2 separate regions of the Homo sapiens genome follow, and region 1 is linked to region 2. Evidence: fine-mapped expression QTL. A gene starts in region 2. The other region holds a variant in brackets. All regions are shown on one strand. Distances are from middle to middle.

Region 1 (5,384 bases), 23 kb after region 2:
TGGCCAATACGGAAAGTTAAAATCTGGATAAGAATCAATGCTGGTATGCAATGTCACATGCGTAGAATATAAAGAGATGATCTAATAGGTCTTATTGGACTCTGGGTTATTTATGCTCATGGAGCATCTGCAGGTTTTTAGAAGTCTGTCACAGAACATCGCCCATTCATTCATTCATTCATTCAATAAGCATTCAGCATCTCCTATTGCTAGGGATGTTCTTGTGAAATTCTAAGAACAGAGAGAGGACTAAGATCCAGCACCTGCCTTGGAGAGAGAGACAGGCAAATAAATAATCACAGTATGGTGTGACCAGGGCAATGAGGAGAATGTAGCAGTGCGATGGGTGCATAGGAGTGACACCTAGCCCAATTTGGGGTCAGTGAAGAATAACAGGGAAGGTAACAAGTGGTTGAAAGATGAATAGAAATTAGTTCTGTGAGGCAGGGGTCACTGGTGGAGAAAATGGACATTCCAAGCTGGCAGGATGGTATCTATAAGAACAAAGCATGACAATACAAAATGGTCAATAAGAGGGTACCATTGCACTCAGCCATGCTTAACCACTCACGTTAACATGCAAAACTGTTGTTTGCTATCAAAGGGTGTATGCAACCTCCCTGATTCCTACGTCCACCCCCAAACCTGCCCCTCCCTAACCTCACACCTGAACATCACCCATCACTGACCCCAACCCCTGCAGTGTGTGTCACAGACAGGGTGGGATCTGGACATGAATAAGGCATGATGTGAAGGGAGGACGAGAGGCTCAGAAATGAGGTTCATGTTCAAGGATGGCCTGAGATTCAGCATTAATGTTAGAAATAGGTCAGGGGGCAGGGATGGGATGAAGCACTGAGACGGTATGAGGATGTCTTTTTGTTACCCGACTTGGAATGTGAAGAGCAATAGTTTTTTCAAGGCCTCCACTCAAAACAGCTGCATTAAAAATGTATTATGCCCCTACTGAGTCCAGAAGATGAATAAAAAGATATGTTTTCTGAACTATAGGTGATTTACTTTGACGAAGCAATGAGCCAGAAGGAGAAAAGTAAGACAGGAGGCTGGAGAGCTAGGAGTCAGGTCAGACAGGGCCCAGTAGGCCATGCCAAGAAGGCTGGGTTTTGTCATAAAGGCAATGGAGATCGATTAAACAATTTAAGCAGGGAAATAACATGACCCAATTTGTTTTTTAGAAAAAGGTTATTCTGGAAGCAATGAGAGAGATCAACCAGAGAGTGAAAAGACCAGCTAGTAATTAGAGTGATTAGGCATCGCAAGATGGGGGATAGAGAGGAAAGGTGTTTTTACAGCCATTTAGGATGTAATGTTATCAAGATATGGGGATAGAATCTTTTTTGGACTCATTGAGATTGTGGAAGTAAAGATGCAGTAGGTGGATGAAAAAAACCTTTGGAAAACTGGATCAATTTTTGTACCATTTGCCAAGATAAGGACTTCAAGAGGAAGAATGGTTGGGACATAAAAGGGAGGTGATGAGCTTAGCATTAGGCCCAGTGATTTGATGGGCCCGTGGGACAACCACATTGAGATGTTGTCTTTAGGACCTGTTAAATAGGCAGATTTAGAGCTCAGAAGAAGAGAGATGAGTGCTAAAAACACAGACTGAGAGGCCACTGGAAGCTGGGGATTTGGACTGGGTAACTCAGAATAATAAGAGGAAAAACAAGAACCAAGGCTGGAACCCTGGGGAAGGTCATTTGTGTTTAGCACAGGATAAACAGCCACTTGGAAGAAGTTCCTCATAAATGTGTTATCTTGTCACCATCATGAGGGCCTGGATTATCTTAGAACTCAGCAGAAGATCAGGTGCTATGATTTGGACATGCTTTGTTTGGCCCTGCCAAGTCTCCTGTTGTAGTTTGATCCCCAGTGTTGGTGGTGGGGCTCAGTAAGAGGTGTTTGGATGGTGAGGCCAGATCCCTATGAATGGCTTGGTACCATTCTCACAGGAGTGAGTGAGTTCTCACTCAGTTCCTGCGAGAACTGAAGTTGAAAAGAGCCTGGCACCTCCTCCTTTTTCTCTTGTTTCTGCTGTCTTGCTATGTGATCTCTGCACACCTGGGTCCCCTTTACCTTCCATCCTGAGTGGAACCAACCTGAAGCCCTCACCAGAAGCAGATGTTGGCGCCATGCTTCTTGTACAACCCGCAGAACTATGAGCCAAATAAACCTCTTTTCTTTATAAATTACCCAGTCTTGGGTGTTCCTTAACAGCAACACAAACACACTGAGACACCAGGTAAAAGAGATATTTGTGTTCATTCCAACTAGTCAATACTATGATAATACAGAATATTAAGGGAGCTCTGAGTGTGCTTGAGAAAGGAGAGAATAGGAGGCATTAGGACAGAGGTCACAGATTTCTGGATGCCCAGTTTTCCAGCATTTGAAGAAGTGAAACCATCTTTCTGCAGCATGGGCTTCAGTAAGTGCACGGGTTTCTGTGGGTCCACCTAGTATTTCTAGACTTCCAGGCCAGGCACGGTGGCTCACGCCTGTAATCGCAGCACTTTGGGAGGCTGAGGCGGGCAGATCACGAGGTCAGGAGTTCAAGACTAGCCTGGCCAACATGGTGAAACCCCGTCTCTACTAAAGATACAAAAAAAATTAGCTGGGTGTGGAGGTATGCACCTGTAATCCCAGCTACTCAAGAGGCTGAGGTAGGAAAATCGCTTGAACCCTGGAGGCGGAGGTTGCAGTGAGCCAAGATGGCACCACCGCACTCCAGCCTGGGAGACAGGGCAAGACTCTGTCTCAAAAAAAAAAAAAGATTTCTAGATTTCCAGCTTTCCAGCACTTGAAAAAGTGAAACTATCTTCATCTTCCTGCAACATGACCTTCTATAGGTATACCTAAGGTGCGCTGCACACTTTTCTTGATGTTATCACTACGTACACAAGTCACCAACCAGGAAGAGTTCTCAAGTTAGGGCCAAGACCAAGATGTACAACTCAGACTTGAAGGCCTCTCCTTGAAACTGGTTCTTAGCCTTTAAACAAAAAATTATAGCTCTCTGAATCTCTTTGAGTTATAATTTAAGCCAGAGACTCTCATCTCTGGAAAAATACACATACATGCAACATTAATTATAATTTAAGGCACTTCACAGACACACTTCTCAAAGTCCTAGGGATCTGTGGACTCCCTGTTAAAAACTGTCACCCTAGAACAACTTA[T/C]CTGGCTCAAGTTGCTTTCGGGCCTTTCAAAACAAAACAAAATTATTCCAGAGGAGCCCAGCAGAAGGAAGCCAGGCACTGTGGCTTCTACTGACCCTGAACTGATAATTCCTTATTTCCGTTTTCAGCAAAGCGGAGGATACGTCCTTCCCTTTTCTGAGAATCCTTCCCCTCCCTCTTCCCCCAACAAAACAGACGCATGGGCATAAAACCAAAACAGCCTGGCCAAAGGCTAAAACACAGGCTGCTGCAGTGGCCTCATGGGGCAGCTGCACAGGGGCCCCTGGCTGATCATGATGTTATCCTTGTGAACCAGGCCTCTCACAAACAAGAAACCGACGCATCCCAAGTTTGTGTCTGCTGACTGAAGGCTGGGGCATGTGGGTGTCTCCAACTGCCAGGGACAGCCACAAGGAACCAGGACACACTGGGTGGGCTTGGCACAGTGCGAGAGTCGATGTCTGTTGACTGAGGCCTGGCTGCTTTGGTAGAGTGGAGTCTGAGGTTTTGATACATGAAATGCACTACTGACATCCCCTATGTTTAAAGTAAATTCTAAATGTGGAGAGCAGGTATGTTATGAAATGCCACAGCTTGCAGGACAAAAGAATTCTCACAGTATAAAATGTGAGCAAATGAGCACCTTTCAATGGTGACAACTCACTCATCCCCACACTCCTAGTTTATTTCCTTCTTTTATTTTTCCTAATCAGGCACGGTGGCTCATGCCTATAATCCCAGCACTTTGGGAGGCCAAGGCAGGCAGATCACTTGATGTCAGGAGTTTGAGACCAGCCTGGCCAACATGGTGAAACCCCATCTCTACTAAAAAGATAAAAATTAGCTGGGAGTGGTGGCGCACACCTAAAACCCCAGCTACTTGGGAGGCTGAGGCAAGAGAATCGCTTGAACACGGGAAGCTGAGGTTGCAGTGAGCCAAGATCGCGCCACTGTACTCCAGCCTGGATGACAAAGCAAGACACCATATCAAAAAAAAATATTTTTCTGATTTCTGTTTTTATTATAAACAGAATACACTCTCACTAAAAAAAAAAAAAATGGAAAATACAGAAAAGTATAATCACTGGAGTACTTCTACAATGATATGATTTTTAAAATTCCATCAGCATGCATTTCTTCAACTTCTCAGGGACACTTCCATTGTTTAAGGGTAAGGCATTCCTTATAGTGGGAGGACAGGCTGTCACCACAGACAATGGGACAGGATCCTTTGACCTTGTGACTTCCTGGGCTCTCATCTCAGTGGCTAAGAATTATGTATTCTATTGTTTTTTCCAAGTTGATAGAAATTTCCCACCATGTATGCCTATTCTCCTTACTTTCTCAATCTGAAAGACCAAAAGAAAAATTTAATCACTGGAAGCTCTTTCCTATTAATGTTTCTGCTTTGTTGTTTCTAAAGATTTTTTCTTTCAGTCTTCACATCACCCTCTCCCATTTAGAGACAGTTTCTCAAAAACCACAGTAGGGATTTAGAAACACACCACACTGTTACATACATTTGGTCCTGACACCACTAATAGCAGTATTTCTTTTGGTAGATGTCTCACTGACAGTAACTCTTGCAAAACAGAAAAGCTACAAATTCAAAGCATATAAACCATAAATGCAAATACAGCAGACATAATAATTAGAGAATGGAGTGACAAGACTTCAGAATGTGATTCTCCACATCTCTGGGTTCTTATTTAGCTTTGAGAGTGAGAGTTTTTTAGAAACAGATTCAGAATATTATTATTTGCTAAGTGAAATAAAATGGATTAGAGGAATTTTCCAACCAAGTGTAAAACTTGGATTTAAAATAGTAGAGAAGACTGAGCTTGGTGGCTCATGCCTGGAATCCCACCACTTTAAGAGGCTGAGGAGGAGGGAGGATCATTTGAGGTCAGGAGTTCGAGACCAGCTTAGCCAACAAAGTGAAACTCCATCTCCACTACCAACACAAAATTAGCTGGGCACGGTGGCTCACACCTGTAATCCCAGCTACTTGGGAGGCTTAGGCAGGAGAATCACTTGAATTCAGGAGGCAGAGATTGCAGTGAGCCAAGATCATGCCACTGTACTCCAGCCTGGACGACAGAGTGAACTCTGCCATCAAAAAAAAAAAAGTAGGGAAGATTGGTTAGTATCTTAGGGAAGAGTGAGAGAACCTTCTTACCTGGC
Region 2 (5,384 bases):
GTAGTAGAACAGAACCAACTCACATGTCTCTGCAAATATCTCCTGGATCCTACCTTGACCTTCATCCCTGAGCACAAGTTCTCCAAAGTCAATATAGTCATCCTCCTTATGATCAAGGATGACCGTACTGAGCTCTTTCCACGTGCCAGGCACTGCTCTAAGCACTTTTATGTATGAATTCACTTAAGCCTCACAGCAACCTGTGAGATAGGTACTGATTATCCCTACTGTACAGATAATGAAGCTATGCATGGAGAGGTTAAATAAATAATCTACCCAAAAGCATATCACTCATCCCTGGTGCAACAGGGATTTGAACCCAAGCACTCTGGCTCCAGAGCCTGTCACTTTTAACAACTACTTTTAATAACTACATTTTAAAAAGGCTGAGAGTAAAGTATTTGGTAAATATTAAGTTTTTGTTTCTTGGGAGAAAAGAGCCACTACCTTTGGTGTTTCCAAGCCTCTTTTTAGGGCCCTAAGGTTCCCAAGATGCTTTTTCAGTGTGTAAATTCTTCCACTTAGGATTCTAAGATCTCAAGAAAGAAAGTGAGAAACTGACCCTTTTTTCTATATTAAGATCCCACCCAAAGAATAATCAAGTAGAAGCCATAACAAATAGACATGGTTCTTTGACAATCTCTTCACTTTAGGAAACGAAGGCACTCCTTACCCTGCGAGTGGGCAGGAAAGGGTGGCTCTTCATTGAAGGAGACCCATTCTGACTGGTGGGTGGCAATCACATGGTCCAAAGTCGTCATGCTAAAAAGGCACTGGTCATCTTCACACTGCTGACCTCAGGTGAACCCCAGAATACTGTCTGGGGTGGGCTGGAGTAGGGGTATGGTAGTACGGTAGACTTGGGTCCAGGGTCTGTTCTAGGTGTCTTGCCAAGGGCAGTACTCAGAATGTAGACAGATCAGCCTCTCTTGCCGTTGGTTAATCTGCCAGGCAGAAATCTGTTTAACAAACAAACAAACAAAAAATTAAAAAGGATAACCATCACATTACACTGAATCCACATAGGTCTAGGGCTTTTAGCGCTGCCCACAAGAAGGCTTGGGGTGGTTTCCAACTTGCCTTACTTCACTCTGTTCCTGTCATGCCCTCACCTTTTATACTGAAATGTCTGTCTTTAGCATCAAGGTTTCTAGATAAGCCTTCATATCACACTTGCAAATAATTACACAAATTTCAGCAATTAGATTCTCTAATTTCCCTAATTATTGTATTTTAGAAATATTGTCATCTATAATACTATCATTGCTAAACAAATATTAAAACTTTTCAAAATGCTTTCACTTTCTCTTACTAGCTGGCAAAATAAAAGCATGTTCTTTTCTATTAAATTAGTCCAGTTTCTTGCCTTAGGCAGGTAACTCTTTATAAACCTGATTTAAATCTCTGGCAGAAACCCAACAATCTCCAGATGGTATCTCCAAGCATGGTTTATCAATCAAGAAAAATAGAAATGAAGTGATCTTGTTCATTTGGAGTAAGAGGATAGGGAACATCTGTGGTAGTGAAAAATGTGAGTTAGAGTAACATTTTCAATCTAGGCCTATTTAAATTAGTTACAATGGTCTAGCCTTTGCTCACACTGCAATTATGTTCTAGGAATACAGAAAGATTCTTAATTGACATAATTTTGTTCATGGTATTAATATCTTTTTACAACCTGAACCTAGCTCTTGATCTAATAATGATTTATAATGAATTAATAAAATCTGAATTTATCTAAAATTAATGTGCTTCCATAGAAGAGCTACTATATACCTTGAACAATATCAGTTCTTATTAACTAAATATACACAATATTCAGATAGTTTCTAGAACAACTTAACTCACAGTCTTCCAATTGCTGCACAATGAAAAGTTTAGGAAATTTTACTACAGGTTATCATCTGCAGTAAATAATCTCTAGGTGGGAAAATCGGTAAAAACATGAACAGCTTTTGCTTTTTTGGTGTTTAAAACAGTTTTGGCATATGATGCTTCCTAAAAACAACTAATGTTTATATAGAATTTATAATTTTCAGAAACACATTTTCATACCATACTTCACTTGATTCAGTAGCCATTTTGATGAGTAGGACTCATAGTACTCTAATTCTTCTATGGATAAAGAAATTTGGGCTGAGAAAAATTAAGTGACTTACCTAATACTTTTAGTGCTTCCAGGCCCTTTTGGTAAAATGCTTCCTCCAGGCTAAGTGGAAGAGTTTACAAATCTCAGCACAGTGGCTGACTTTTCTTCATAATAAGATCTCACCCAAAGAATAATCAAGTAAAAGCCATAACAAGCAGGTGTGTTTGAAGCACCACACTAAGTGATAGATCCAACCCTTGAGCCCAGGTCTTCTGCAGCCAAAACACTCTAACCCTGGTGTCACAGCCGCAAAGAAGTACAACAGAATACAGTACATATAGACTATCACCCAACTTAAGTACTTTACAAATATCAATTACAATGGAACTGTAATGAAATGTCCGGGAAACTCCCCATGTGAAAGTTTGCCAGCACACCCCAAGCTGTATAAAGGATGGGAAGCCCAGAAGCCTCTTCTCCAAGTCCCTCTCCTAGGATCCTTGCCAACCACAAGGCCAGACATAGGCAAACAGCCTGGAGAGAGCAGGTCTCCCAAACCAGATCTTACCAGAGAGCAGTGCAGGGTCCACAAGCACAAAGAGCTGATTCCCACTGGCTTCTGCCTTTGACGACTTTCTCAAGCCCTGTCAAATGTGTGTCACTCAATGTGGTAATGGCTGCGGGCCAAGATAAGGCAGTAAAATTGAAGAGTCAGATTCCTCCTCTTTCAACGACAGCAGCATGTAAACCAGCCCCACAGCACCCGTCAAAAAAAAAAAAAAAAAAACCCACAATACAAGTCCCTATGCTGACACATGCAGTGTCATCACTCAATGGGGAAAACATCCTGCCAATCCTGCAATGATGAACCCAGCAAAAGTCATGGATAAGTGGGGTAGGGAAGAGAACAGGGGACGAAGGTGAAGGTAAGAGGAAAATATTTAAAAATTTTAAACTGAAAGGTTTTAAAGATCAACAACTTCAGGTGTTATGAGAAAACTGAGGCCCAAGGAAATCAGGCACACGAATAGAGATTGTGATCACAGGCCCAGGAGTTAGGTTGTTCGGATTTGAGTCCTATACAGTCTTGGAGTCCTATACAGTCGTGGACTCATAACTCAACCTCTTTAAGCTTCAGTTCAACCTTGTACAGAAAGAATAATAAAACTCACTCCATAATTCCGAGGATTAAACAAGATAATGTACGCCAAGTACTAAGGACTGGATGTAATAAACCCTCTGTAACGATGACAATGAAAACAGCAGGTGACCTTACAGAGGGCTTACTGTGCCCCAGGCTCCATTCCAAACCAATGTTAGCCATCGCCAGCACTGCTGCTATTGTTAAATGACTCGCCCAACGTTGCGTAACTTGTTCGTAGAAGTCTTGGGACTGGAATGCAGATTTCATGAAACCACTGCATTTCTGTCATTTGCAGAATCTGGTTTCAGTCATTGTTCAAAATGCTAAGTAGAGTCATGTGCTCAGCTACAGTGCCCAGAAGGCAGATTCTAAATCCTCTTCATTATAGATATAGGTGCATTCTGGCCAAAGTACCAAGACCATTCCTCAGAACGTATGAACGAAAAAAGAGCCCCAAAACTTTATCTATCCTTCCTTCACTTGTCCCAGACCAGACATGGGCTGGTGACAGACAATGAGTGGTCCCAATGAAGACTGGTGGAACAAATTGATCACATGGAACCCCCCATCATATTCCATACCATAAATCCATAAAATGGATTTTAGGTATTTGCCATGGAAGAGCCACACCAATAAGCCATAAGAAATCAGACCTTGAAAAGTGCTGTGCTAAGCAGCTGGAAACCCACAGAAGAACCCAATAATTGTGAGGTTAAGTTCATACTGGAATTAGTTGCTTGGTAAAAACCTCACCCCATTTTTAGAATGTGAATCATAAAATGAGGTTTAGAATCACCACAAATGAGTGGTGACTCAGTATCAGCAGGAGGATTGACCAACAGATGCTAAAAGTTTCATTGAAGTCTTGGAGTTGCCATTTCAGAGAGCTACTTCTTTCTCAGCATTATACAAAAATTTGTAGAAGGGAGAATGCAATTGTCTGATAAGATGGGGGTCATAGAAGTAGTTTTGTCTTATGACAGTCCTCTAATTGCCACAGTTTAGCCGTAGGGAGATCTCTGAGAGTTGGAACCATATGGGACTGGGTGGGTTTCTGAGATGTGAAGGATGTCCTTGATTCTGGACCAACAGAGGGACAAGTGAGGGAAGCCTCTGGACAGGGGATCACCGCAAGTGACAGTAAAAATCAGAAGCAGACCTTAACAAGGTGTGTTTCTGTCTGAACAAGCCTCTGTCTGATGAGAGCAGAGGTATCTACTGGGGGAATATGGAGTGAAGGGATTGATTGACCATAAAAGCTAAGGAGAGTTCAAGGGGAAATGAGAAGCTGTGGGAGGTTTAAAAGCAGAGAGTGACTCAAGAAGTGTGCTTAAGGGAGATAAGCCTTCCTCAGACAGTGCTGGACAGAAGCGTGGTGATGGAATTTTTCAGCCATCAGTACCTCCGGTGTGTCTCACAAAGTTGGGGGGCACAGTCATCAGGAACATGTACTGTTTCTGCCCATTCTAGGGCCTGAGGGTCAAGGGAGAACAAAACAGCATCTCTGCCCTCAAGCAGCTGTCAACTGCAGGGAGATACCACAGCAACCTAAAACAATAACCTCTGCTCTCTAACCTATTCTGGTGGTTAGTCACCAAAAGTAGGACAGCAGCAAGTAAGAGTGTTAAGAGACTTCTGAGAGCTTGAGCTATAGGTGGTCTTGAACTGTACCCTAAGCCGGAAAGGAGGGGTCTGAGCAAAAGAGCTGAGGGGCACAGGCACTCAGGAAGGGGGAGCAGGAATGGTATGTCTAGCCCACAGTGAGTTACACTCTGTTCATCTGAAGAGGGTGTCAAGCATCCTGGAAAAGGAGCTCTAAGTTTCAGAACGAGTTTGAGCTCTGGAGCTTACCCTCTCCAATCCCACTGCCAATGCCTTGGCTCAGCCCCTCATGATCTCTCACGCAGACAGTTGCAAGTCTCCTACCTGTCTCCCTGCCTTCAGTATCACCTGCTCAAACCTACTATCCAGCCTATTATGGTAGAGTTATCTTCCTAAAACCTGAAAATGGCTATGCTACAGCTCTGCTTACAGCTCCTCAAAGTCTCCTCACAGGATAAAATGAGGTATGAGAAATGAACAAAGGATTCCTGAGAGCAGGGGTTGCATGCTATACCCTCAGCATTGAGCATAGTGCCTGGCACAGGTTAG

Direction of the effects. Alleles are on the strand shown, and positions count from the first base shown. SD is a standard deviation of normalised expression in the study named.
With allele T in place of C in region 1, the expression in visceral fat of the gene that starts at base 2,703 in region 2 is higher (small effect, 0.21 SD a copy in GTEx).

Evidence for each region. PIP is the estimated chance that this variant, and not a neighbour inherited with it, causes the effect.
Region 1: its variant is the best candidate, but not a certain one, in a credible set for the expression of STON2 in visceral fat (GTEx, PIP 0.59).

What each region holds. Positions count from the first base shown.
Region 1 is chr14:81,420,255-81,425,638 of GRCh38, forward strand. It overlaps a transcript of STON2 not described here. Among named protein-coding and RNA genes, the nearest start is that of STON2, 23 kb to the left of the region's middle. The variant T/C (reference allele first, on the strand shown) is at 3,201.
Region 2 is chr14:81,397,622-81,403,005 of GRCh38, forward strand. STON2 (stonin 2) reads right to left here and starts at 2,703. Exons shown (of 8, transcript NM_001394390.1): 1 at 2,658-2,703; 2 at 674-959. The coding sequence starts at 761.